Linked DNA regions of Homo sapiens. The protein of the gene in region 2 interacts with the protein of the main gene of each other region in a pairwise test. Each region holds a gene or a part of one and is shown on either strand. Other genes may lie near its edges. The genes, in order: ARHGEF10, KIF3B, CLCN5 and MAP3K11.

Evidence for each region.
Region 1: the proteins of KIF3B (region 2) and ARHGEF10 interact in binary tests that used the Homo sapiens proteins (3 or more experiments, as listed by UniProt).
Region 3: the proteins of KIF3B (region 2) and CLCN5 interact in binary tests that used the Homo sapiens proteins (3 or more experiments, as listed by UniProt).
Region 4: the proteins of KIF3B (region 2) and MAP3K11 interact in a two-hybrid assay, tested with the Homo sapiens proteins (one study listed by BioGRID).

The regions. Positions count from the first base shown.
Region 1 is NC_000008.11:1,819,944-1,826,948, forward strand, and holds the start of ARHGEF10 (rho guanine nucleotide exchange factor 10), read left to right. Parts: upstream 1-3,982; 5' UTR 3,983-4,170; intron 4,171-6,103; exon of another isoform or gene 6,104-6,167; coding exon of another isoform or gene 6,168-6,192; intron 6,193-7,005. UniProt on the Homo sapiens protein: May play a role in developmental myelination of peripheral nerves.
Region 2 is NC_000020.11:32,272,977-32,280,672, reverse strand, and holds the start of KIF3B (kinesin-like protein KIF3B), read right to left. Parts: upstream 3,023-7,696; 5' UTR 2,908-3,022; intron 2,556-2,907; exon of another isoform or gene 1-2,555. UniProt on the Homo sapiens protein: Microtubule-based molecular motor that transport intracellular cargos, such as vesicles, organelles and protein complexes. Uses ATP hydrolysis to generate force to bind and move along the microtubule. Plays a role in cilia formation.
Region 3 is NC_000023.11:50,093,577-50,099,736, forward strand, and holds the end of CLCN5 (H(+)/Cl(-) exchange transporter 5), read left to right. Parts: 3' UTR 1-5,654; downstream 5,655-6,160. UniProt on the Homo sapiens protein: Proton-coupled chloride transporter. Functions as antiport system and exchanges chloride ions against protons. Important for normal acidification of the endosome lumen. May play an important role in renal tubular function.
Region 4 is NC_000011.10:65,604,199-65,611,223, forward strand, and holds part of MAP3K11 (mitogen-activated protein kinase kinase kinase 11), read right to left. Parts: intron 4,251-7,025; coding exon 4,070-4,250; intron 3,873-4,069; coding exon 3,724-3,872; intron 3,619-3,723; coding exon 3,443-3,618; intron 3,316-3,442; coding exon 3,072-3,315; intron 2,607-3,071; coding exon 2,493-2,606; intron 1,884-2,492; coding exon 1,748-1,883; intron 1,655-1,747; coding exon 1,563-1,654; intron 1,445-1,562; coding exon of another isoform or gene 1,395-1,444; intron 1-1,394. UniProt on the Homo sapiens protein: Activates the JUN N-terminal pathway. Required for serum-stimulated cell proliferation and for mitogen and cytokine activation of MAPK14 (p38), MAPK3 (ERK) and MAPK8 (JNK1) through phosphorylation and activation of MAP2K4/MKK4 and MAP2K7/MKK7.

The DNA.
Region 1 (7,005 bases), on a different chromosome or scaffold from region 2:
TATGTTTTTCATGTTTTCAAGATTCATTGTTATTGAACATATCAGTTTCTTCCTTTTTATTACTGTATTATTAGTATTCTATTATTCTATGAAGATACAATACTTTATGAGTTCACCTGTTGATGGAATTTGGGTTGTTTCCAGTTGCGAAGTATTTGAACTGTTTTGAAGAAAGAATTCTTGTAAAAATCATTTTTTTTTTTTGAGACAGGGTCTTGCTCTGTCCACCCAGGCTAGAGTGCAGTGGTGGTGAACATGACTCATTACAGCCTTGACCTCCCAGCCTCAAGCGATCCTCCCACTTCAGCTTCCTAAGTAGCTGGGACTGGAGGTGGAGACTATCATGCTAGACTCCTGGGCTCAAGCAATCCTCCACCTTGGCCTCCTAAAGTGCTGGGGTTACAGGTGGGAGTCACCATGTCTGGCTGTAAAAGTCTTTTAAGGGACTTATGTTTTCACTTGCCTTGGGCAAACCTAAAAGTGGGATTGCTGAGAAATGGGCAAACAATTAATCAGAGTGGTTGCGCCATTTGCACTCTCATCGCCTTGTATAGTGGTTCCAGGGGCTCCACATTTTTACCCTTGCCATGTCGGTCTGCAGTTTCAGCCGTGCTTGGATGACGGTGGTGGCATCTCATTGTGAGTTTACTTTGGGTAACACTGAGCACTATTTCCTGTTCTTGTTGGCTATCAGTACATCTTTGGTGAAGTATTTACGTCTTTTGTTTATTTTTAAATAGACTTGTTATTGTTATTTACAGGCTTGTTATTGTTATATTGTTTTGTCCCTTTTGAAATAGACTTGTCTTGTTATTGTTCATTTGCAGGAGTTCTCTATTTACCAGGACTATGGTTTGAACGCGTTTTCCCCAAAGTTTATGTGTTGGAAACTTGACCCCCAATGCAGCAGTGTTGGAAGGTGCCTACTAGGTGGTGTCTGGGTCATGGGGGTATGACCCTCATGGATGGATAAATGCCATGACTGAGGCGGTGGGCTCCTTATAAAAGAATGAGTTTGGGTGAAACCTCGTCTCTACTAAAAATACAAAAATTAGCTGGGTGTGGTGGCACATACCTGTAATCCCAGCTACTCGGGAGGCTGAGGCAGAATAGCTTGAACCAGGGAGTCGGAGGTTGCAGTGAGCAGAGATCGCACCACTGCACTCCAGCCTGATGACAGAGCAAGACTCCGTCTCAAAAAAAAAAAAAAAAAAGATAAGTTTGGCCCATTTTGCATCCTCCCTCCCCACCTCCGCCTCCCACCTTCCGTCATGGGATGATGCAGCCCGAAGGTTCTTGCCAGATGTGGCTCCTTGATCTTGAACTTCCCAGCCTCCAGAACTGTGAGAAATAAATTTCTTTTCATTGTAAATCACCCATTCCCAGGTATTCTGTTACAGCAGCACAACGTGGATTAAGACAAGCCATTTGTGGGATATATGCATTGCCCCTGTGTTCTCCCAGTCTGTGGCTTGCCTTTTCATTTTCTTAATGATGTCATGAGATGAGTAGAAATATTAAATTTTGATAAGCCATTTAATCATTTTTAAATGGTCGGTCCATTTTCTGTCTTACCTGAAGATCCGTAAGATCTTTTCTTATATTTTATCCTAGCAACTTTATAATTTTTACACTTAAGTCTATGATCCATCTGAAATTCCTAAATTCTATTTTAATCCTAATAGTTTATTTGTAGATAATTTTGTTTTTTAACATATATAATCATATTGACTGTAAATAATCAGTTTTTCCTCCCTCAATCCTTACACTTTTTGTTTTTATGACCTACAACACTTGTTAGATGCTGCAGGACAATGCTGAATAGACTACGGAGAGTCAAAGATTTTCATACACCCTTATCAGTACAAGTAGATAAAAAGTACAAGTAGATAAAAAGTACAAGTAGATAAAAAAATCAGTAACAAATATGACCTAATTGACATCTGTAGAACTTTATGTCAGTGAAAGCATGTTCTCAGCAAGTGCTCATAGAACATTTACCAAAATAGACAATGTTGGGCCATGAAGCAAGTGTTTGAAAATCTTAAACGACAAAAATAAAACAGCTGATGTTTTAAGGCCCGGTGGAATTAAACTTTAGTTACAATAAAAAGAAAACCAGAAAGTCCCCATATATTTGAAAGGTGAACCTAACTTTTCTAAATATCCCATGGGTCAAAGAGGGAATCACAATGGAAAATCCCAACTCTTCCATATCCGGGCTTACGAAAATAGGGATGTATCTGTGAGGAACGCCTGAATAAAGCAGACAGACAGGATCTATTGGAGCTCCAAATCAGGGGATTTTCTGCCCAACCTGCCTGGAAGGCATTGCTCTGTGGCCCTACTCAGTGGTGTCCCTGGCGGCCCTGAGTTTAGGGGCTCAATTTCATCCATTGAGAAAATGAGTTGTTTATTCCATACACAGGACTATTTCCTCTTATCTCTACCTTTTTAGAAAACACTACAAGTATCAGGATTTTCTCATCGTATTTAGGTAAACAAGAACTAATTTAGTTGACCTTCTTACTTCTGTTGATCAAGACCATTGATCTGACCATTGATCTGTGCAGAAGATCTCTGAATAAGGTACCCAGAGAACCCTAGGAATAGAAACCTGAAATAAGTTTTCTAATCTTAAGGTCGCTGAGAGCAAATACCTTTTTCAATTGATTCATAAAAACAACTCAGTCTGATTTCATAAAATTAGCAAGTGTGAATAATAAACATTGAAAAAATATCACCTTACCTACGATTATTTTTTCCAGCCATTGTAGTCTTTCTATGTTGGCTATGATTTTTACATAGTCCAAAATTTTCAGGGAAATAACTTATTCCAGAGCACACAAGCCTTAAGGGCAGTTAATGTTTAGATTAATTTCGTGATACTTAGCATCCCAAATAGCTGTTTGTATTTCTTCTATAAAACAAGTGAAAGGGGCTAGAAATCTCTAAGAAGTCTGACAGTTCTAAAACACTGACTTAAAATTACTTCTATGATTCGGAGATTTGGGTAGGAGAAGGCATAGAAATAAATCTAGCATCTGCGAACACACTTGTTAAATGTGCTGACCAGGTAAAAGATAACATCCTTTAGTTATTTTGGTTAAAAATGTCTTTGTTTCTCGTTTTTTTTTTTCTTTAATAGTAATTATAACGATAATCTGTTTCCTTTTTAAAAGTATAAGACAAATAAATGCTCAAAGTAAACAATTCCAATAACTCAGAAGGGGCCATTCCCTGGAAAGGTCCCGGGAAAAACGAGCGCTTCCTGGCAAGAAGCAAGCTTCAAAAACTGCCTCGGAAACGTGGCTGAAGTCATCGCATTTCCAAACGCCCAAGCCTTGGCTGGTCCAGGGCAGCTGGCGCGGAAGACCCGGAACGCCCTGTGGGCAGGGCCAGCTGCGGACGGAGGGACGGGGGCTCAAGGGCGGGTCGGGTGGGGTCCCGACGCCCCCTCCTCGGCTGGGCGCACCCCGGGTGTCCGCAGGGAGGGGCGATGTTCTGGGGGGGGGAGCGTCTGCCCGACGCCCCCTCCCTCAGGTGAGCTCAGCCCGTGGGGGTCCGCAGAAAGGGCGGTGCTCTGGGAGAGGGTTAGGGTCTGCCCGGCGCACCCTCCCCAAGGGGCGCAGCTCTGAGCCGGGAGCAGGCTCTGCGGGGAGGATCCAGATGTTGGGGGCGGGGAGGGCACTCGGTCTGCCCAGCGACCCCTCCCGAAGTGAGCGCGGCCCGGGGTCCGCGGGGCAGGAGATGATCCGGGGGCGGGAGCCTCTGCCGCGCGCCCCCTCCCACGCGTGCGCAGCCTGGGCCGGGCGTTGGGCAGCGGGAGGGGGCGCGGGCGGCCACGTGGCCTCGAAGGAATGCGCGGGCGCGAGGGCAGGGCGCTGCCGAGAAACCGGCAGGCTCTGCGGCCAATGGGCGCCCGGAACGGTCTGGGCCCGCCAATGACAGCATGGTGGGTGGAGCAGGCCGTCCGGGCGGGAGGGGCTGGGCGCATCCCTGTAGCCGGCGGGCGCGCGATCCGGGACGGACGGGGTCGCGGGGGACGCGGGGGACGCGGGGGACGGCGGGGAACGGCGGGGGACGGCGGGGAACAGCGGGGGACGGCGGGGAACAGCGGGGGACGGCGGGGAACAGCAGGGGACTGCGGGTCGCGTCCTGGCCGCCGAGGTGAGTGCGGGCCCCGCGGACCGTGGGTCCCCTCGCGGGCTTCTGGTTTCCTTTGAGAGTTGCACTTCTGCCCGGCTCCCCCGAAATCGCTGGGTCCCACCCGGAGGTGGCTGCGCCCCCGACCCCCTGCGCAGATGTTTCAGGGAAGGGGCTGAGACCCCCTCCCCCCGAGCAGCTCCCCCTTCCGCGGCGCCCCCGGCCCCTCAGGATAACGGCGCGGGCCTGGGCGGGGGGAGCAGGGACTGGCAGCAGGGACCCCTGGCCCCAGGGGCAGGAGCGAACTCCGATCGGCGGAAGGAGCCCGAGGGGCGAGCTGGCTTCGCCTGGGGGGTCGTGCAGTAACTTAGATTTTCCGGTAAAGGAGAAGAATGCGGTCCGCCTCAGGATGCAGAGAAGGACCGGTGTAAGGAAAGCCGGCGTCTTTCCCCCGCACCCTACCTGTCCCCCTACCCCACCAGTTCCCCGCACCCCGTGTACCCCGCCTGTCCCTCAGCACCCCCTGTTCACTCTGCACTCCACCAGTTCCCCGCACCCCAGCTGTCCCCCCGCACCCCACCTGTTTACCCTGCACCCCAGCTGTCCCCCGCGCCGCAGCTGTCCCCCCCACACCCCACCTATTCCCCCGCACCCCGCCTGTCCCCCCGCACCCTACCTGTTTATTCTGCACCCCACCTGTCCCCTCGCACCCCACCTGTTCCCCCTGCACCCCACCTGTCTTCCCCACACCCCACCTGTTTACTCTGCACCCCAGCTGTCCCCCCACACCCCACCAGTTCCCCGCACCCCGTGTACCCCGCCTGTCCCTCAGCACCCCATGTTAACTCTGCACTCCACCAGTTCCCCGCACCCCACCTGTCCCCTCGCACCCCACCTGTCCTCCCCACACCCCACCTGTTTACTCTGCACCCCAGCTGTCCCCCCACACCCCACCTGTTCACCCGCACTCCACCTGTCCCCCCGCACTCCACCTGTCCCCCCGCACCCCACCTGTCCCCCCTGCACCTCACCTGTCCCCCCGCACCCCACCTGTCCCCCCGCACCCCACCTGTCCCCCCGCACTCCACCTGTCCCCCCGCACCCCACCTGTCCCCCCGCACCCCACCTGTCCCCCCGCACCCCACCTGTCCCCCGCACCCCACCTGTTCACCTGCACCCCACCTGTCCCCCCGCACCCCACCTGTCTCCCCGTACCCCACCTGTTCCCCCGCACCCCACCTGTCCTCGCACCCCACCTCTCTCCCTGAACCCCACCTGTCCCCTGCACCTCAACTGTCCTGCACCCCACCTGTCCCCCTGATCCCCACCTGTCCTCTGCACCTCACCTGTCCCCCTACACCTCACCTGTTTACCCTGCACCCCAGCTGTCCCTCGCACCCCAGCTGTCCCCCCCGTACTCCACCTGTTCCCCTGCACCCCACAGCCCGCTGGTGCCCAAGAAGCCAAGGTAGATTCTGAGGAAACTGCCCTAGGTCCACAGACGCCCTGCCCACCTGTCCCAGCCCCACTCCCCTTCCATGGGCCCCTGGGCACTGAAGGTGAGGTCTGAGTACCCCTCCCGACTGTGGCCAGTAGGTCATGTTCCCAGGCAGCAGTAGACGAACTTGCTGTTGTCTGATATTGATTCCAGTCACTAACTTTGGCTGCAAGTAAAAATTCTCATTGACTCAAGATGTAACGGGTTTTAATTCTTTTCTCTGGTTAACCATAACCTGAGTACGGACTGGTCAGTATTCTAGATTCTGTGCAGGAGTGACTTAATGTCCATATGGGTGGAATGCTGCAAGGAGGAACAATTTCACTGTTGCTGATTAATAATATGTTTTGAACACCTGCTTTATAGAAAATAATTTTTATTCGAAAAGAGAGATGATTACTGAGGTTTACACGTCATGTATTTTTAAAAACACACTTTGTCCCTGTCTGTCTCTCACAGCATTTATTTGCTGGCTTTAGCAGCCAACATCGGCAGTTACGGATGCATAACTCTTTATAGACAGATGAGACCTCCAGGATTTCTCAGCAGTAAGAAAAGTCATTTGTATAAGGTGCTATTTGTAATTCATTAGTTGTAGACAGTTGGGGGTGAAGTGAAGTTAAAAGTTATTCAGAATAGCTTTTTATGTTTTTAAAAGTTGATGCTTGACTTCCAGATGTAACCACATTTGTCTTCTGGGTGCTTTGGTGTGCTGCCTTTCCTCTGCAGTTTGTGTGTGCATACGTGTGCGTGTGTCTTTGTGTATGTGTTTGTGTTTGTATGCATGTGTGTGCGTTTGTGTGTGCGTGTGTTTGTGTGTGTGCTGTGTGTGTGTGCGCTTTGTGTGTGTGTGTGTGCGCGTGTGTGAGTTGTAGATAGAGGCGTTGGGTGGTGTGGAGGGTGTGGAGTTACAGACCTGGGTTGAGGTGGGGAAGCTTTTCCCTGGCCCTGTGAGTCCAGACTTCTCACGGGACTTGAGGGTGCTCACTTACGAAGTTGCTAGAAGGCGTTGTATGGGGAAGTGCTGCTTAAAACAAAGATGTTTGGCATAAATTAGAGCAAACTGGAAATGCGCTAATGACGGTTGTATTCTGTAAGCGATGTGAAAACGTCATAGTGAGATGTAAGAAAGCGCTGTTGTAGGCCCGTCATTGTTTACTGCACAGTGTGTGGCAGGAAGCATGCAAAGAACAGCTCGGATCTGGAGATGCTCAGAGAATCTGTGTTTCATGCGTGCGTTGCTTATAGTTTGCCTGGGTAGAAAGGTAAGTGGCGTGAAATAAGACAGAAGGGAAGCGTAGCTGTTAGTCATTCATGAGGGAGAACTTCAGCTCTCTCCCTTAACCAGGCTTTCTGGGAGT
Region 2 (7,696 bases):
CGCAATCTTGGCTCACTGCAAGTTCCACCTCCCCGGTTCACGCCATTCTCCTGCCTCAGCCTCCCGAGTAGCTGGGACTACAGGCGCCCGCCACCATGCCCAGCTAATTTTTTTTTTCTTTTAGTAGAGATGGGGTTTCACTGTGCTAGCCAGGATGGTCTCGATCTCCTGACCTCGTGATCCACCCGTCTTGGCCTCCCAAAGTGCTGGGATTACAGCCGTGAGCCACCATGCCTGGACAGCTTTACCTTTCTTTGCAACCCATTGTGGCACATGATTACAGGTTCCTGGGGCCAACTGTATAAAAATATCAACATTTATATAATGCCATGATGGCTACTGTTTCATGCTTGCAATGACATTATGGTTGACGGACCTGGTATTATCACATACTTTAATTTATTCTTTCACCAACCATACACGGAAAATACAGCACAAGCACCACGTTAAACCCAAATAACGATAGCTAATGTTTACCAAATATGCTGGGCACTTCACATATATTAAGTTCAAATAAATCCTCAGAACAGCCATACATGATAATAAGGCCACAGGTAATAAGGCCTATTACTATCCCCATTTTACAGATGAGGAAACTATACCACCAAGGGGTTCAAAATGAACTATGAATAATTCTTCCTCACAGAGCCCCTTACCAAAAAGTCCTCTCATCATTTCAGAGGTACTGAGCATCATTTCAGAGGTAAAGTAGCACCTCTTTGCTCAGTAGCACACAGCTTGGAAGTGGCAGAGCCAAGATTTTAGTCCAGGTAGTCTGATTGCAAGCTTTTAACCACAACTGCATAACAGCACTGAAAGGGCCTTCAGTATAATCTAGCCTAGTCCCCTCATTTTAATGAGGAGGGAATGAGGGACAGAGAAGCCCTCTTTTAAAGATTCCAGCTCTCAGGCTGGGCACAGTGGCTCATGCCTGTAATCCCAGTCCTTTGGGAGGCCAAGGCAGGCGATCACCTGAGGTCGGGAGTTTGAGACCAGCCTGACCAACATGGAGAAACCCCATCTCTACTAAAAATACAAAATTAGCCGGGCATGGTGGCACATGCCTGTAATCCCAGCTACTTGGGAGGCTGAGGCAGGAGAACTGCTTGAACCAGGGAGGCGGAGGTTGCAGTGAGCTGAGATGGCACCATTGCACTCCAGCCTGGGCAACAACAGCAAAACTCCGTCTCAAAAAAAAAAAAAAAGATTCCAACTATTTTCTGAGATCCTCACTTTGGGTGGTATCTATTTAAATAAAGCTTTACCTGAGATCTTGTTTCCTTGCCTTTTAACTTCTAGCCAGTTAAAAGTAACAAAAGAATACCCCTGTGGCCTTATAATAGCAACTGTTGCAAAATCAGAGGCAACAGTGAATGGGGGATAAAATACAGGATTTACCTAGAAACACGTCCACTTCCATCACTTAATAGATACAAGATTCTTAGGCAATGACTGGGTGTGGTGGCTCACGCATGTAATCCTAGCACTTTGGGAGGCCGAGGCAGGTATATCACTTGAGGCCAGGAGTTCGAGACCAGCCAGGCCAACATGGTGAAACCTTGTCTCTACTAAAACTACAAAAATTAGTGGACGAGGTGGTGAACATCTGTAGTCCCAGCTACTCGGGAGGCTGAGGCAGGAGAATCGCTTGAACACACGAGGCGGAGGTTGCAGTGAGCTGAGATCGCGCCACTGCACTCCAGCCTGGGCAACAGACTAAGACTCTGTCTCAAAAAAAAAAAAAAAAAAAAGGATTCTTAAGCAGGTCCTTCCCTTTACTTTTCTGAACCTCAGTTTCCTCATCGGCAAAATGAGGATGACATCACCAGGCACCTGGCAAAGTCTACATAAAGATTAAATGAAATAATATGCCTGGTAAAGTGCTTCTTAATCATATGCTTGTAAATAGTTATTACTGCTTTAAGCACTTCCCAAAGGACACAAAGATGCCTTTTTTCTTCTGGAAGGGTCAACGAAGCCCAGGTAGAAAATGAGACCATGACCCCAGCTATCTACAAGGGGTTGACCTCAAAGAGTTTCCCAGGACTACTTGTAGAAGTACCTCCCTTGCTCTGAGCAGAATGGAGAAGTAAAACCGGGGTTGGGGGTTGGCATTGCAGTAGGACTACCCATATGAGCTGGCACTCTACACACCTACACCTTACCTGTCCCAAAGTCATCTCCTCCTGGAAGTCTTGCCCTCCTACCCTGGACGCCTCATAATAGCTGGTTGAGCACTTACTATGTGCCAAGCTACTTGACATACCCAGTCTCACTGATTTCCACAGTAGTCTATTACCTCATTTCACAGATAAGGAAAAGAAGACTCAGAGAAATTAACTTGCCCAGGGCCACACAGTTACTAAGTGGAAATGCCACGTCTCTAACTCGCTCAGACTTCAAACTGCCCTCTTGGTCTCCCATCTAGGGTGCCCTAAGAATTCTCCCTCTCCCCATTTAGGGCACTTTCACATACACTTCTCATTATCTTTACCACTCTGAGCAGCAATGTTAGGACCCCATTGAATAAACAGGTCAGCTAAGGCCAGGGAGGTGAAAAGACTTGCCCAAGGTCACACAGCAAGCCCAGCACAGCGCCGAGGTTCGGACCCCAGGCTCTCGCTTCCCCGCCCTCCTCCCAAACTGGGGCCCTGACCACCGCCTCAGGGCCCCCAGGTGGGCTGCGACCCAAGGTGGCCGTGTCTGGGGGTCGGGCCGCGACCCTGCCAGGGGAAGGAGGGGCAAGGCCGTCCGGACTACCAAAGGATGCCTAGGAGGCAGGGCAGAGGATGCTCCGGCTCGCGGGACAGCAAAGCCAGGCAGAGGCGCGGGCGCAGGTCGCAGGGAAAACCCCAGGCGGCCACAGGATTAGCCCTGCTCGGTGGGCGCCCGGCCCCTCCGACTCACCTGAGGCCCGAGCCGAAAGCGGGCGGCGGCGGCGGCGGCGGCGGCGGCGGCGGCGGCGGGGGCGGCGAACCCCTGGCTCAGCCATTCCCCGCTGCCCCGGATGGGGAGAGACAGTGGCCGCTCACTTCCTTAGCAACCTGGCTCGGCGACCCACTTCCTTAGCAACCGGTGTCAATTTCAATAACTTTATTGGCACACGAGCAGAGGACAGGGAAAGCCGGCTGGAGGGGTCTGGGCGGGGCTCAGGTCGGTGCTGGTGTTTAGCGGGGGCCCAACACACCTCGGTCTCCTCACCCACCTAAGCGGGGAGAGTGGCGCACAACGTGGCCTGACTCCATCCTCTGGTATCTCGTGCCTCAGTTTCCCATCTGTAAATGGAACACACGCGATTTCAGCCGCCGTTCAACCTTTCTAAAAGCTTTCACATCCATTATCTGACTGGTGTCTCAAACTGCTACTGAGGTAACTCCCATTTAGGGTGCCCCCAGTGACTCAATACGAACACCTATAGGCACCCTTGTTGTAGCTTTCCTGTCCTTCACCCAATCCAGTCAGTCACAACCGCCCCAGGCAAGGCCAGGCCACGCTCATCTCTAGCCTGCCTGAAATATCTGGTCTGTTTCCATTCTTTTGTCCAGCTCTGTCCGAACAATCCATTTTCCATAAGGTGGCCAGAGTAATTATTTAAAACAGATCATGCGGCCAGGTGCGGTGGCTCCCGCTGTAATCCCAGCACTTTGGGAGGCTGAGGCAGGTGAATCACCTGAGGTCAGGAGTTCGAGACCAGCTTGGCCAACATGGCGAAACCCCGTCTCTAATAAAAATACAAAAAATTAGCCGGGCGTGGTGGCGCATGCCTGTAGTCCCAGCTACTCGGGAGGCTGAGGCAGGAGAATCGCTTGAACCCGGGAGGCAGGGGTTGCAGTGAGAGAGATGGCACCACTGCACTCCAGCCTGGGCGACAACAGCGAAACTCCGTCTCAGATATAAAGATTAAAATAAATAAATAAATAAATAAATAAATAAAACAGATCATGCCACTTTCTGATTAATACTCGATTTAATGGAGTCTCATTGCTCTTAGAATCAAATATGAAGTCCTTATTACTTCCTGCAAAATTCGTTAAAACTCTATTCCAACCACACTGGCCTAGAAGGGCAGGTTCCAACCCCCATGGAACTTACACCTGCTGTTCCCCACTAAATAGAAACTGCATAAGAGCAGTCTTTTATTTGTTCACTCTTGTATCCACCATGCCTGGAACCAAGCTTAGTCAATAGTAGTTGCTGAACAAATATGTTTTGCTCCTTGAATAAATGAATACCTGAGATGGTCTTCTTCATCTGCCTACAACTACTTTTTGCCTGTTGTGGCAGATATTGCTACTTCCTCTCAAAAACGTTATTTCTTCCTGCTCCTGGACACACAACTAGACAGTATTTCCCAGCCTTCCTTACAGTTCAGACCAAGTTCTGGCCAATTAAATGTGATGTGTGCTATTCTCAGGCCTGGCCCATTAAAACTCCCACATAATTTGATTTACACTTTCTCTACAGTGAAGAAGTTTATTTTTAAATAAAATAATAAAGGAAATACCAAAAGAGACTGCACCCAGCCTCTTTTGGTATTTCCTGAAGCTAATAATTGCCTCATTTTTTCCCCCCTTTCATTAGCTTTCTTTGCAGATATTGTTAATTTTTTCCTATGTGGTTAATAAATTAGACAAAATAATCAGCAGTGATTTTTCCAGATGTGTAACATAACAATTCGGCTAGGCATGGTGGCTCATGCCCATAATCCCAGCACCTTGGGAGGCTGAGGCAGGCAGATCACCCTGAGGTCAGGAGTTCAAGACCAGCCTGGCCAACATGGAGAAACCACGTCTCTACTAAAAATACAAAAATCAGCCAGGAGTGGTGGCAGGCACCTGTAATCCCCACTACTTTGGAGGCTGAGGCAGGAGAATTGCTTGAACCTAGGAGGTGGAGGTTGCAGTGACCCGAAATAACCCTATTGCACTCTAGCTTGGGTGACAAGAGCAAAACTCCATCTCACAAAAACAACAACAACTTAAAAAAAAAAAAAAAGTTCATGAGTTCTCTTTTGTTTTTTTCTCCTGAAGGCTTCAGCTCTGATCTGGACCAGTGCTCTCCAGGCCTACTGCACAGCTGTCATACTGAACTTTCCTATATCCTACACCTGGTTGGGATTCCCTGTGCCCTGGACCTTGTGTCTCAAACTTCTAGATTGTGGATTTACTCTGTCATCTCTGTGCAGCACATCTTTCTGTAGATTCCTGAGAAAGGTTGCAAAGAAGCAAATATATTTAGTCCTTGTATGTCTAAATATGCATTTATACTGTTTTCACACTTGATTAATAGTTTAGCAGGGTATAGAAATCTAGGCTGAAGGCCAGGCGCCATGTCTTATGCCTGTAATCCCAGCACTTTGGGAGGTCGAGGCAGGCAGATCACCTGAGGTCAAGTGTTTGAGACCAGCCTGGCCAACATGCTGAAACCTTGTCTCTACTAAAAATACAAAAAAAACATTAGCTGGGCATGGTGGCACATGCCTGTAGTCCCAGCTACTCGGGGAGGCTGAGGCAGGATAATCACTTGAACCCAGGAGGCAGAGGTTGCAGTAAGCCAAGATTGCACCACTGCACTCCAGCCTGAGCGACAGAGGGAGCCTCCATTTCAAAAAAAAAAAAAAAAAAGAAATCTAGGCTGAAAATTATTTCTCTCAGAATTTTTAAAACATTGCATTATTGTTTCTAGTATCCAGATTTAAGACATCTAATGCCATTCTTAATCCTGTTGCTTTATATGTGTCTTGTTCTTTTTTTATTTTTAATCTTTGAAAACTTTTAGGCTATCATCTTTATCCATAATGTTGTATTTGATGATGACTCCCCTCAGTGAGGCTTTTCCTCACTTGTGTTAGCTGGGCCTTTTCAATCTGGAGACTTATATCCCTCTAATCTAGGAAATTTTCTTGTATTATTTTTTCGATAATTTTCTCCCCTCCTATTTTTTTTTCCCCTGAAACAGTGTTGTGCTATGTTGCACAGGCTGGAATGCAGTGGCATGATCATGGCTCACTGCAGCTTCAAGTGATCCTGCCACCTCAGCCTCCCGAGTAGCTAGGACTACAGGTGCATACCACCATGCCTGAGTAATTTTTCTATTTTTTGTAGAAATGGGGTCTCACTGTGTTGCCCAGCTGGTCTCAAACTCCTGGGCTCAAGCAATCCCCCTGCCTCGGCCTCCCAAACTGTTGGGACTACAGGAATGAGACACCAGACTTGGCTCTCCCCTCCATTTTTTTCTCTTTCTGGAATTTCTCTTAGTCAGAAGTTATACTTTCCAAACTGAGTTTCTAATTTTCTCTGTTTTTCTCTTATTGTCCCTCTTTTTGGCTCTTTTGTTCTACTCTGTGGGAGATTTCCATCCATATCTTTATTTTTAGTGTCTATCTCTTCTATGGAAGAATCTGGGCTCACCTTTTAGTCATCAAATCAATATTCCCTGCAGACATTTGGGTCATAACTTCCTCCCCCTGTTAAGTCAGTTACTACTTCCCCTTCTGTCCCTGTTTTCTAAAAACTTGCTGAAATCCCTGGGCCACTAATGTCTCCTTTTCATTCCTATTCATGTTCTGGGTTAATACATTTTTTATTCCTTATTGCCATATAGATGGGGTTCGAGGGAGAAAAAAATAAATACGCATCATCAATCCACTATGTTTAACTGGATGTGTTTACTGCTATTTAACAAAAATGTATTGTGTTCTTCAAAACAGCTAGAAGACCTGAAATGTACCCAACACATAGAAATGATAAATACTTGGGTGATAGATAACCTAAATACCCTGACTTTATCATTACACATTCTATGCATGTAACAAAATTGCACATGTACCCCATAAATATGTACAAAAACTATTTAAAAATTTTTTTAAACAGGTAGGTAAAAGGTATGAACAGATAGTTCAGAGAAAAGGAATAGAAAATATTGCTTTTAAACATAGGAAAAGGAAAGATACTTATGCTTACTCATATTAAAGAAATGAAAATTAAAACAACTTTTTTTTTTTTTGAGACAGAATATTGCTCTGTTGCCCAGGCTGGAGTGCTGTGGCGCAATCTCAGCTCACTGCAACCTCTACCTCCCGGGTTTAAGTGATTCTCATGCCTCAGCCTCCTGAGTAGCTGGGATTACAGACATGTGCCACCATGCCTGGCTCATTTTTGTATTTTTCAGTAGAGGCAGGGTTTCGCCATGTTGACCAGGCTGGTCTCGAATTCCTGACCTCAAGTGATCCACCTGCCTCAGCCTCCCAAAGTGCTGGGATTGCAGGCATGACCCACTCACTGCACCTGGCCGAAAAAAGAACTTTGGTAAGGCATTGTTGATGACGGTCTGGTCTTGATTCTGTCCTTAGCAAGCTGAATAAAGCTGTGTATTGAAGTGGGATTAGTAGTAGTAGCTGTACAGTTGTAGGGTGACTAACTTGTTCTAGTTTGCACAGGTCTGTCCCTGTTTTAGCACCAAAAGTTCCATGTCCCAAGAAACTCCTTAGTCCAGGCAAACTAGGATGAGTGGTCACCCTAGTATGATGGGGTAACTTCTATATTACCAAGTATGTTTCCACTCCTGGCATTTCCTTTCCATACTGTGTCCTCTTTTCCATCTAACCTGGACTGTGAGGTATTTATTGCTCAGAAAAGAGTTATTTCAGTAGAAAAATAGAGAAAGGACTTTCTGAGCCCCAGAATCTTGGGGAGGA
Region 3 (6,160 bases), on a different chromosome or scaffold from region 2:
CACACTCTGGGGACACTTGGTGGAATTACAGAGCCACCATCATCATTCCAACCACTATTTCATTTTCTGTAGTTTTACCTGTGTGCAATTACTCCCCCTCCATTCTGTTCCACTTCTTACTCCTTAGTACCAAATCCTCTGTTTGGGATTGAGCGCTGCTCCTGGTTAATCATTCCTACTACAAAAAAAAATAACTCCCAGGGCTAGTTAAATTGTAAACCAAGGCTCAGCAGTCTCACAACACATGGACCAGAGGTGACACACAGCCATTTCCTTTGCCATGTGGCCCAGTTGCTGCTGCCATGCCTCCATTTCCACACTGGATGCCTACGGCAGTGAGATTTCACTGCCGGGGTAAGAGTTCAGCCTGGATGATTTTATAGCTCTGTTCCTAGCACTTCTCATCATCCTTCCAGCCCAGAATCAGCGGTCATTCTGCATATTCCCACCAACCCTCTACCCCCAAACACTTCAGTGTACCTCATTTTAAGAGTTGCTGATCCCTGATTCTAGGACGTTTTTACCCATAGTTCTTGTCTTTCCAAAATCTGAAATTCTTTTTTTTGCTCAGAACTGGGTAGCCAAGGGTTATTTTATTTTTATCTTTAAAATAATCAAGGCAGTCGCTAGAGTTTCTCCTTGTGAATAGATCACTCTAGCATTTTAATGAAAAAGAAAAAAATCTTTCTGGGGTATGTTGTATCATAGTAATGGCTCAGTAACCACATATTTTGTCCTTTCCATGTCACTGATTCCTTCATATGAGACTATTTGGCTTGACTACCCTGTATATTGTGTAGAAATCAAAGTTCTTATCTGTACATTTCTGGTCCAATACCTGTCTTATTAGTTGTCCTTCCCCACTAAAGTTTGCAAAACAGAAAATGTTACTATTTCTGGTATTTAATGACAATGAAAGGTTTGGTCATATTTCATAGTGCAGTAGCGATAAGGAGGGTGTCTCAAGTTTGCTTTTGTGTTTCTTCTAGGCTTTGTTCTTGATTTTAGACAGATGAGCCAGTGTTAAGGTGCTACTTCAGAGAATAAATTAGAGAAATCAGATAACACTGTGCCAAGGTATACTTTGTAGATGCTAAGCACCGATTGGCCCTCCAGAGAATGACAATATCCCTTTGATACCTCACTCCTGATCAATCTCATTCATTAACCTCAGCTTCTCAGGAATCCTTGTAGCTTGTATGCTAGAAGTAGCTATGGTATATGGTATCCACTATATGTCCAGTCCTATGGTTTGGCTCAAAGGTTGGCTAATTGCAGCTAGAGCTCTCAACTGCTAGCTCAGCACCTTGACATTTGAAGTTTCTTGTCTTGAGGAGAAGGAAAATGTTCTTTCTGCCATTGCCACTTTAACAGTTGGACATGCTTAAGCAACAAATACAGCCAGTATAGGGAGGACTGTCAGTAGCATCAAATGGCCACATACCTCAATGGCAAAAGACTAGATGGTTTGTGATTTAAAAATTAATGAGTCGAGATGAGACTATTTTGGTATTAAATGAGAAAATTGCCTAACACAAGGGAAGGGTTTACAAAAGAATGCCAATTAGTGTTTCAACAGAGTTAGGATTTTCCAAGTAAGAGTAGCTGGTAGCCATCCAGCCATAAAAGGAACGAGAGTCTATAGATTTGTAAAAGTAAAACTGCTATATTTTGTATCTTCAAATCTTCAATATAAAGAATTTAAAGAACCTGAAACAGTTAATGCATGATTCGTTATATTGGAGGGAAAAAGCAGGGGACTGATAATACAAAATAATGGCAACTTTAAAGATCATTTCTACGTGGATGTTTGGTTAGAAACATATTCCAATGCTCTCCTCTTTCTCTGGCCACAGCATCCTGGCTCAGCCCAGCTGTGGAGTAGAGGTGGTAAGATCCACAGAACAGATATCCTCTGGTAGATAAGCTGACATTGATGATACTTTGAATTTACCAGCTGGTGAAGCAAACGATTAATTTGTGATTGAACTGAAAAGCAGTTGAATTGTTTTGACACCAGAGGCTGAATCTAAACCCTTTACAGGAAGAGCAGAGCATACTATACATTTCTTAGCAGATCTTCAATTCTGTTTGAACATGATGAAGTAACCAGGGTTTAGTGAGATCTAAGGCCGTGAAGTAATTCACAACCAAGATCTTATGAACGCATTCAGATGTGAGGGGGGCAAATATGTTTTCAAAAACTTAGTGTGCAATAGAGTCCATTATAGAAATTAACCACTGCTATATGTTTTAAGTAGTTCAATCACCTGTTGTGGTTCAGTCTTGATTATTGTTTATTTTGTTAGGTGATAAGTAGGAAGATGCACTTGTTATCCCACACTATCTCTTGTTTTGTTTTGTTTTGTTTTTAAATAATGAACAGTGCAATCTTTGAACTTGAGTTTTTAATAATGATAGCAAAGACAATGGTGAGAACTTGAAACAGCCAGCATATTTTATATTGCCAAAGTACTTACTGATGACTGACCACACTGTCTTGTGAGGAACTGGGTCCCCTGCACTGGATCAGAGCCAAATGCAAGCCACCCATCAGTTCAGAGGAAGCAGGAAAACATCTTTTGGGTGGTGCATAGAACATTGAGCTCTTAAAAACCCGGAGAAAAATTAGGAATTTAGAAAGTAAGTGGGAGGTAGAATATTGAGTCCTTTTTTAAAAAAAAGAATTGATGTCTAAATATGTAGTCTGAACTTAAGTGTCCTAAAACCTTGTTTTTTGTTTTTTTGTTTTTTGAGGAGTCGTCTTGCTCTATCACCAGGTGGGAGTGCAGTGGCACAATCTCGGCTCACTGTAACCTCTGCCTCCTGCCTCCCGGGTCCAAGCAATTCCCCTGCCTCAGTCTCCCAAGTAGGTGGGACTACAGGCGCACACCACCATGCCCAGCTAACTTTTGTATTTTTAGTAGAGACGGGGTTTCACCATGTTGGCCAGGATGGTCTCGATCTCTTGACCTCGTGATCCACCCATCTCGGCCTCCCAAAGTGCTGGGATTATAGGTGTGAGCCACCGCACCCAGCCAAACCTTGATTTTTTTAGCCACCTCTGGGATTGCCTGGGTTCCCTTTGGAGAAGAAACTAAAAGTTATGGCCATAGAAAAAGCCCTGGTAAGAAAATATTTGAATGGTGTAAGATGGTGGAAGGAAAGCCATCCCACACCCCTACAACATATGTTCTGGCATTTATAAACTGCTTGATTGTGTGCCTCAAGGGGAGAAAAAGTCAAGCAATGCTTCAAAGGCCAGGCTTTCTAAGCAAATGAGTGGTTCAAAGCAGTGTTTGGCTCAAGGGCAGTCTGGTTTTATGGATAGGGCCGACCCAAGACATCTGCTCATGAAGAAATGTGGCATCTGTTGCCATTTCCTAAACTATAAGGTTTAGATAGATTGTCTTGAATTTTGATAGCAAATTTTTTTAAATTTATATTTCTGCCTCCTCGTACATCCTTATATATGGAAAAAAAAGTAAGAGTTCCTCAGATCAGAGCTCAGTAGCTGTGTCAATTTGAAGTTCAATCAGTGTAGTTGTCCTGGGGTGATCGCTGACTCTGCTCTGTTTCATATTTCAGTTGCTTGCTCCAAGGAGAGAATTTCTGAGAACAATGGGTGTTAGCAACTTTAAGTTACTCCCCAAACGTTTGCTGGCCACATTCTCATTTCTAAACATCTGGATCTGGGTAAAGGTTTGAATAGATGTAGGGAACAAAATTGGTTTTTCCATGGTGTAGTCTAATTTTGCCAAATCACCCAAGAAAGAAAGTATATGACGTGTGGAGTTTGCATTTCTTGGATGGGACCTATCGGGTCACCCAGCCCAGTCTTACAGTCATAAATTCCTACCTCTTAGTTCCTGCCAAAGGGCCTTCAGCCTCTGTGTGCACACTTATTGAATGAATGCTTTGCCTAAAGTTTGGCCTTTTGAAGAAAAACAGCATGTGATAATATAAAAATATGAGAGTTTAAAAAAAAAAAAGATCTCTGCCTCTCTTCTCTCTGCCTCGTCCCACCTTGCTGTCTGTCTCATTGTCTTTCTCTCCCCTCACCATGCGCTGAATTCAGATTTCTCTTTCTTTTATTATAGGCATGTTGTTTTGAATGTGGACTTTGTGGGAGGGAGAGGATTGTTCTGAGAACAGAAACTGGAAGATACGTCTGAGTTGATGGGACCAACAGGGCTTTGCTCCTCTGTGAGGGCCAAAGCCATTGATACTTGTCGGGGGTGATGAGGGCTTTAGCATCTCAAGGCAGACATATGAAGTATTTACTGCTAAACTATATTACTTACTAGTACAAATCTGTTGGAATTCAGGGGCAGTCTAAGATTTGGTGAGTGAAATGCCATCTGGCAAAATCGAGAAGAGAGTGTGGCCTGAGAGGGGAATGTTCAGCCTCACTGTCACATTAAGGGTACCTCAAAATACATGGTCCTTCCAGTGTGTTCCTTTTCCTTCCTCCATTTCACTTTGTCCCCTCTTCTTCCTTTCTCTCCCATTTTCCTGGCTTTTTAGCACTCAGCTTTTTTTTATAAGTATGTATTTACTTTTTATTATATATTTGGTCCTTTGGGACTTTGTGATGATTAAGAATTTATTCCATTCAGGATTTTAAAATGATGTGTTTAATATTTTGTTCTCTTAAACTCTTTTGAAGCTATGCTGCTAACCAGGTATAGGCCAGAAAGGAGGTGGCCCAGTCAGTACCTTGCTCACGTCAGCTAAGGGGGACAGTGATGTCATGTGGGTGACTCTTCTTCATTTGACCAAGGCCAGCCTCCTGTTCTTACCTCTGCCCATTCATTTCTGGCTATGGGAAAACTACCACCTGTTGAGTGAGCCAATGAGGCCAGGAAGATCAGAGGGGCTGGGTTCCGGCCCATGGGCCACTATTTGAATTTCTCTGTAGTAAGCTCTTTGTAGGGCTGGCTCCAACTGCAGTAGCCAAAGAAAACCTGTCTGACTCGACATTTTAATGCCTGAGAGTTGGTGAAAGTTCAGCTGAAGCTAATGTCTAGACATCAGCAGTAACTAGGCATCCAGAAAGTAGCTTCAACCAAAGCTAATAGAGCCCAAGTTTCCGCAGGAAGTTTGGTGCTGAGCTGTCCAGAGCAGTTGTTTATCTGAGTGTTGCTAGCCCTTAGCCATGCTTTCTTAGCTTTATTCTCGCCTGTTCCTAGGCATAGCCTGAACCAGAGCTATGGCTCACTGCTCGCTTTATTCTACTCCCTAGTCATGCGGAACAACATAGTCTAAAAAGGAAGATGTGGACTGGGGAGTTAGGAGACCTGATTTCTATTCCCTATGCTTCTACTAACTAGCCTCGAGATCTTAACCGCTCTGTGCCTCAGTGTTCCCATCTGCAAAATGGGGATAGTGTTAATTGCCCTACCTACCTCACAGGGTTGTTGTGAGGATAAACTGAGACAATGAATTCAAAGCAAGTTGACAAGTAAGTGCTATGCAAATTGTAAGAAATGGAAACAATCATGTTAAAAGCAATGGAATGGACATTGGCAGAAGGGTTAATGGATTGTCCAGCCCTTTCTCTGTGTGGCTTAAACCCAGGTCGCCATTGCTTTATACATTTTCACTTAGCACAGATTTGTAATTATGCATGTAATAAAGCACAGCCTTATCCACCCTGGTGTCTGGTGTGTTTCTAAAGACCCTAAACTTGGTAGCTATTGATTTCTGATCAGAAAACCACAGGGGCAGAGTGGAAGGTTCAGGGGAGGGTAGCACAAAACACAACTGCAAACCCCTACTGGCAGGCCCACTGCTTAAAAAGATTTATTAAATAGTTATTTTCACATTTACAGACTCAGTAATACTCTTTACCATAAGGAGGCAAATAAGAGGCAGCTTGCGTTTTTGGAGATGTTCCAGATACCCGGATACCTCATTCATTGTGGCTACTTAAATGTTCCTGTCTCATACATTGGTGATACTTTCCTGATGATGTGAGAATTGGCTGGGAGCTGTATTTTTCTCTCTCTTTGAGCTCTTAATGATGTAAGGTCGTGGGCTTTGACAGGCCTCTTGCCTACAGCTACTTTGTACAAGGAGGAGGATGGGTAATCAAAACGGTCCTCCCATGAATACTAGGATTCTTAGTACCCTCTTTATGGTGTATTGGGATTAAAAT
Region 4 (7,025 bases), on a different chromosome or scaffold from region 2:
TGGATAAAAAAACATGGGGCAAGCTTGAGAACGATGGGGCCCAGGCCCCTTGTGCCCCTGCTTCTGGGAGCTGAGGGCCAGAGAGTTCTGTGGAACAGTCAGGACCTGCTTCAGCCTACACACCTGGGTTGACAGGCTCTCAAGTTCTCCTTTGGCCCATCTGGCCTGGTACAATTTAGAGCAAGTGAATTCAAGAAGCCTCCTTGGCCTTCCAGCTCTCAGTTCAGTCCCTGCAGGACAGATGCTGGGGGCAGTGCAGCTGCTGGAGTAGCAAATGGCGGGGCAGATGGAGGCCCAGGGCTCTGCCTCTGTGGTCAGACAGGCAAGAGCAGATCAAATCCCTGCTCTACTGGTTGCCTTACATCAAACCACTTAATCTCTCTGTGCCTCAGTTTTCTCTGTTGTAAAATGCAGGCCAATACTACTACTCCCCTCACAGAACTGCTTGGCACATAGAAGAGAACCAACAAAGGTTAGCTGTTGTTACAACTATCAAGTGTAGCTCAGGGAATGGAAGAGGCGATGGGCTGGGTGGGATGGGAGGAGTGAGTTTAAACGGCTTGCTGAACAGGACTCTTCTGAGAGCAGCTAAGCGGGTCCTACATTCTGGCTGTGAGCAGCAGGTGTGGGGGCTCTGAGGATGGTCCCTAGGTTGGCACAGGGACCCACAGGCAAGGGAGGCCATAACTCTCTGGCCTCACTCAGAGCTGGGCAGTGTTGAGCTGAGTGAGCCCTCCTCCCTGCAATGCTGGAGCCCTGCCTTCTGCCTGACCCTCTGGCTTCCTAAGCAGTCTATACGTGAGAAGCCCTTTCTTCAAGTGAAAGCTTCTGAGCTCACTACGAGAGCATTGGAGCTGAAGCCTCTCTGGGTTCAAATCCTCAGCTGGGGGTTTGAGGTAGGTTACTTCACCTCTCAGAGCCTCAGTTTCCTTATCTGCAAAATGGGGTAATAGTAGCCCCTCTTCATCAATGCTTGGAGGGAATGCCTGGCACAGTAGGGCAGTTACCGTCATGGAGAACAGAAAGGCCCCGAGCTATCCTGGATGTGGTGAGAATGGGTCCTGGATCCTGCCTGCTCGGCCTTCTCATTCTCTTCTTCACCTACAGGCTCCCAGAAGGGGCTCTGAGAAGCACAGTGTGGCTGACACTTGTTTGGCTCCACCCCACACAGGCTGATTCCTTCCCCCATCTGGGTCCAGCTTCCCTTGGGTACCAAATGCCAGGTGGGCTTCCTGTCTTTCTTTTCTCCCTGGAGCCTGCTAAAGGCACAGGGGCTGCCATGGGGCCAGGGAAGAGGCTTCTTGCAGGCCAGGTCTGAGCAAGGGGATGAGACTCTGGGCCCCGAGCCGAGGCCTGGGCTGTATGCCGCTTGATCGTGGGCCTGTAGGTCAGACCTGGGTTCCAGGATCGGCTCTGTCTTGTCTCAGCCTTGGTTTCCTAGTCTCTAGAATGAGAGCAACCAGGGCAGGACTCCTGCTTTGCCTACTAGCCTATTGTGGCCTCCCCAAGGTGCCCACGGAAGGAGCTCAGCCAGATCCTGCCGGGGGAGGAAGGCCACTCACCATTGAGTGCTGGGGGTGTGGAAGGAGATCCTAAGGGGGATGAGTCATCTGAATCCAGGTACCATGTGGCTTCGTCCATGCGGGACCTTCTCCTGGTGATGGGAGGGCAAGGAGGGGTGCTTTAGGAATTTCAGGACTTGGGGAAAGCAAATGATGCTGGGTCTGGGGGGCACTCAGGTACTCACCTCCCATTCTGGGCTTCCCCAGGCTTGGGGGAACTGGGACCCCAAGCCCAGCATGCTCGCCGCTCTCCATTGCTTGAGTCCTCCAGACGTCGGGGGGACTGGCGGCCCCATGCCTGGCCTGGCTCTGCAGGCTCCACTGCAGGGGAAACCGATGAAATCGGAGATAATCTTTATTCTCCCTCCATCATCACAGTCAGGCTTCAGAGATAAACTTTAGAGTATGGGGAGCAGGCTGGGCCCTGTACCATTCCCAGGGTGAGCTTTGGGCAAGATAGATGGGTTTGGGTCTTGGGGCCAACAGTGGGGTGGGGCATCTCATCTAGCCCTTGGGCTGAAGTTTGCTGCTTAGTAATTAGTACAGACACTGACACCAACTGCCTGAGTTTGATTCTGGCTCTTCCACTTATTAACTGTGTAACAAGTTACTTTTTTCACTTTTCTCATCCATAAAACTTAAATTAACAACAAAAATAACTACCAAATAGAATTATTGCAAGAAATTAATATTAGCAAAGCATTTAGAAAATTAGTAGTACATAGTGTCATACAATTATTTGACTAAAAAAAAATAAGTAAAATTAATGCTGCTTGGGGAGTTCAGAGGTAACAGGCTAGACCTAAGGCAGGGAGCCTGGGGGCGGGGAGGAAGAGGGGATAGTGAGTGGGCTCCGCCTCCAAGAATAAGGTCTGACAGAGAATAAGGAGCTGGGGGGCGGAGAGGGGCATGAGAGGTGAAGTTTCTTACACTGGATGGCTCGGAACCGGGGAAAGGTGGGCGAATCCCCAGGCCCGACCTCGAAGACGTTTCTCCTCCGGTCAAGGCCGGGTGAGGCCTGCACGGTGATGCGGTGCTTGAAGTCTGGGATTTGGGTTGGGGGGAGCAGGGTTCAGGTTTGTGATGAAGTAGAGCCAGGACCCCAACCTGCAGGGGCCCAAGGCCAGCTCCCAGGCCACATAGGGAGCGGCACGATGGCTGTGAGACTGTGACCAGCCTCACTGCTTTCTTGAGCCCCTGGGTCTGGATAAGGAAAGCTACTCGTCTGAGTCGGAGATGCCCTGGCGCCGGCCGGCCCCGCCCACTAGACCTTCCCAGAACTTTCGTGAACCCCACCCCTTCCCACTCCCAGACCGACATGCAAATACTTCCGCCAGAACCCGCCCACAGACAGAAAAAAAACACTCCTGGCTCCACCCCTCCCAGCCTTCATCTCACGGGCCCACCCACAACACCCTAAACCAATCCCAGCGCGGTGAGCACACAGGCCTGGCTCCACCCCCACCCCCGCAGCCAATGGCGGGGGACGCCCCGGGGCCCGGCCCTCACCGAGTGGCATGCTGATACGCTCGCCGCCGTCGCGCGCCCGGAGCTTGCTGCGCTTGAATGTCCCGCGGCGGCGGCGCACGTGCGGTCGCTCGCGGTCCACCTGCTGCAGCAGCAGCGTCAGCTCGCGCTCGAACACCTCTAGCTCCCACTGGGCCAGCAGGTGCTCGCGCCGCCGCAGCTGCTCCGCCTGTGACCGCTGCTCGCGCGCCGCTCGCGTCAGCTCCTCCTCGCGGCTCAGTAGTTCCTGCGCCCGAGACAGCGATGGTGGAGAGGTCAGCCTGGCACCAATCCCGGCAGCGCCCGCCCCGACTCTGCCCCAGGGAGATCGGGGAGACACTCGTTCCAACGCTGGGTCCCTTGATTCCTCGCACCTTTTCCTTGGCTCGCAGCTCGTCGAAGAGACCCTGGATCTCGCGCTTCCAGCCTTCCTGCATGGAATGGAAGGAGTCCCGCGGCATTTCCCGTAGGACCTGTGCCTCCAGCGCCTCCAACTGCTGCAGGATGGAGGCGAAGTCGGGCCTGCGGTGGGGGTCCTGCGCCCAGCAGTCTAGGGGCACGGCGTGCAGCGGGGACAGAATAAGAAGGGGTCCGTGGGTGGATGTGTCCTGGGCCAGGGAGCTCTGTACCTCACCTGCCCTCCCCGTCCTCTTACCGGCCATAAGCTGTGCGAAGGGCTCGGGGCAGGTGGATGGGATGGGCAGTGTGAGCTTGTTAACAGCTACGCCATAGGCCACAGCAAGGCAGTCAATGCCACGGTATGGCACCTCCCCGGTCAGCAGTTCCCACAGCAGCACCCCAAAACTGTGGGCGAGACAACAGGTCTGTGTTCCCTTTTCTCTCCCAACCCCCACCCCCTTACTGCCACTTCACCCAAAAGCAACTAGGAGCCAAGTGGTTTGGGTCCCTGTCCCTGGACTTGGCCCAGCCCTAGATTTAGGCAGCCACCTCTGCCCTCTGCAGCCCCGTAGCAGCCCGTCCAGCCCCACCAAGGGCCGCACCTCCAGACGTCACTGCCCTTAGAGAAGGTGGAGGCCTTGATAACCTCAGGAGCCATCCAGGCGTAGGTGCCCGCGGCACTCATTTGTGTGGTTTTGTGCCACTCTCGGGCCAGGCCAAAGTCGGTGATCTTCAGGGTCTTGTGCTCCATGTCGTCACTCTCAATGGGCTGCAGCAGCAAAACTAGAGAAGAGGGGCCAGATTGTGGATGCTCCAGGATCAGGTGGTGGGGACAGGGTAAGAGCTGGGAGCAAACTCATCTGACGGACATCCTGGCTGGGTCCTGGGGGCACAGAGGTGACTTGGTCTAGATCTTGAGGACCTACTTGAGGTCAGACATTTCTTTTCTTTTCCTTTTTTTTTTTTCTTAAGATAGAGTTTTGCTCTTGTTGCCCAGGCTGGAGTGCAATGGCGTGATCTTGGCTCACTGCAACCTCCACCTCCTGGGTTCAAGCGATTGTCCTGCCCCAGCCTCCCGAGTAGTGGGATTATGGGCATGTGCCACCACGCCCGACTAATTTTGCATTTTTAGTAGAGACAGGGTTTCTCCATGTTGGTCAGGCTGGTCTCGAACTCCCAACCTCAGGTGATCTGCCCGCCTCGGCCTCCCAAAGTGCTGGGATTACAGGCCACTGCACCTGGCCGAGGCCAAACATTTCACACTCAACCCCAGCACTCAAAACCATTTATGAGCTAAATAATATTTTTCATGTTTCACAGATGAGGAAACCAAGCAGGGAAATGACTTGGCAGAGGTCATACAACAAATACAGCAGAGATTACAACCTGGTCTGTGTGGCTCTGAAACCAGTGTTCTAGCTTTTCCCTAATATTACACTGAAGCAAAACTGGCAAGGTGGCAGCTCTGGACATTTATGGCTTTGATTTCAAGAGAGATCTGTGAGTCTCCTGTCATTTTGTTGAGGCAGGAGCGTGAATCAGAACCCCCCTTAGAGTGGGGAGCAAGAGGGAAGCTCTTGGTGAGAAAAGAAGCCCAGCAGGTACCACAGGCCCCTAGTGCCCACATCACACTGTGGCAAGTGCAGCCACTCCCAAAGCAAAGACTCCAAAAGATACCTACCAATGCAGCTGGAAGGGAAGAGAAAGGGTGGGGTCCAAGAAAGTGATGGTTCTTGGCCACAAAGGAGGAGCTTGGGGTAAATGTAGGCGTGGATGGTCAGACTTGGCAGGGGCTCATGGCTTTAACCCAAATGGGGCCACCGTACTTGGTACAAAGAGGAGAAGCAGCAACTTGCATATCTCTCACCAGGACAGGAATGGCTCAAATGAGAGAAGTTTTCGAGGAATAGAAAGAGGACAAAGTCATAGAGTCATGAAGGGTCTGAAGGGCCCCTCTACTTTTCAGGTTACAGCCAACTGCACTGTGGAAGAGAAGCAATATCAAGTCAACCATGTTTCTGGACCCATGTCAGGGCACACCTCTCAGCTCTCCTGCCCTGTGTGACACGGCTGTCATGGGGGCAGCATAGGGCACAGGGGGTGGGGCAGATGGGAAGGGCACCTAATACAGCCTGGTGAGTCAGGGAAGACTTCCCAGAGGAGGTGGCAGAACCAGGGTGCTCATTTTTCAGGGCTTAAAGCAACAAGCCCTGATCCTGCTGCTGGCCAGGCCACCTGGGCCTTGAGGAGGCATCTGGCACTGCTGCCAGCTGTCCCCGCTGCCCCACCGTCCTCAGCCCCCACAGCCCCTGGCTGCTTGGCTCTGTTTCTGTGTCCTCCACCTTCAGCCATTTCGGCGCTGGTGCTTCTCAGAGCATGACCTCTCCTCAACCTCTGCCCACTGCCCCTGGCTGACTCAGCCTCTTCCAGGTACCAGCTCCCTCTCCCCACTGGCATCTTCCACATTTGCAACTCCAGGCCAGACAAATTGGTTCAGCAGCTCTACCTGATGTCCAGGTGCCCTCCATGACCACCTTTACTATCCCGGCATGCCCAGTAGATTTTCCTGCAATTTTTCCTAATCCAGAGAATGGTCTCAAAATCTACCCACTCCTCTGAGCCAGACCTTGGAGCTGAGTCCTGAACACTTCATCAAGCTGAGGATGACAACAAAACCCTCCTCAGATGGCTGTCACGAGCATGAAACAAGACCACACTTTTAAAGTTTTTGCATGGGGGCTGCCACCTGGCAGAAGCATCCTAAAGGCCAGTTGTCCTAAAGCACTTATCGTATCTCCGCCCTCCTCTCCCTCCTCTGTCACTCCTTACTGCCAACTTCAAAACAGCCTCTGGTCTGGCTGCTGGAGGCGGGGACCTGAGCATTTAGCAAGCCCCCGACGACAAGCTCATTCCAAAGGGGAAACACAGCAGGCTGGGGCAGTGGGTGGAGTGGAAATGGGCACCTCCCCTGGTGCCAGGGCCCACCTTCCCCTTTGAAGACCAACACTTGCTGCTTCTTGGCCTGTCTCTAGCCACTTGTGGCACCCCAGACTGGCAAAGTGCTGTTCCAGTATCTCAGGCCGGGTGGCCACTCTCCACCTTTTTCAGGTGGGGAATCTGAGGCCCAGAGAGGGGCAACAACTCACCCAAAGTTTCAGGACTTCTTTGTACTTGTGGTCTTTCTGCTACCTCCCCGCTCCTGGCTCTGCCAGCTGCTAAGCCCCATCCTCTGCTTTCTCTCCAAGCTCCTCTCTGTGCTTTCAACTGTCCCAACTCGAACTGCTGTTCTGGTGTCTGATGTAGATCCCAGGCATGGGAGGTCAGGGGTCACCCAGAGGAGAATGGGCCAGAGACCCCGAAACTGGGGGAAGCTCTCAGTGCCCCTTTAGGGCTCCCTGGCCTCTGATAGGGACCTGGCCACCAGCTCCCTCCCTGGGCTGGCCTCTGTGGGGCTTGGGAGTGGCCTGGGCAGCTCACACCTCTTCCGCTTTCCTCCCGTGGTCCCTACTTCTCCTTTCTGGGAGGCCTGGGCCAGGTCTCCCACTTGGGAGGGGGAGT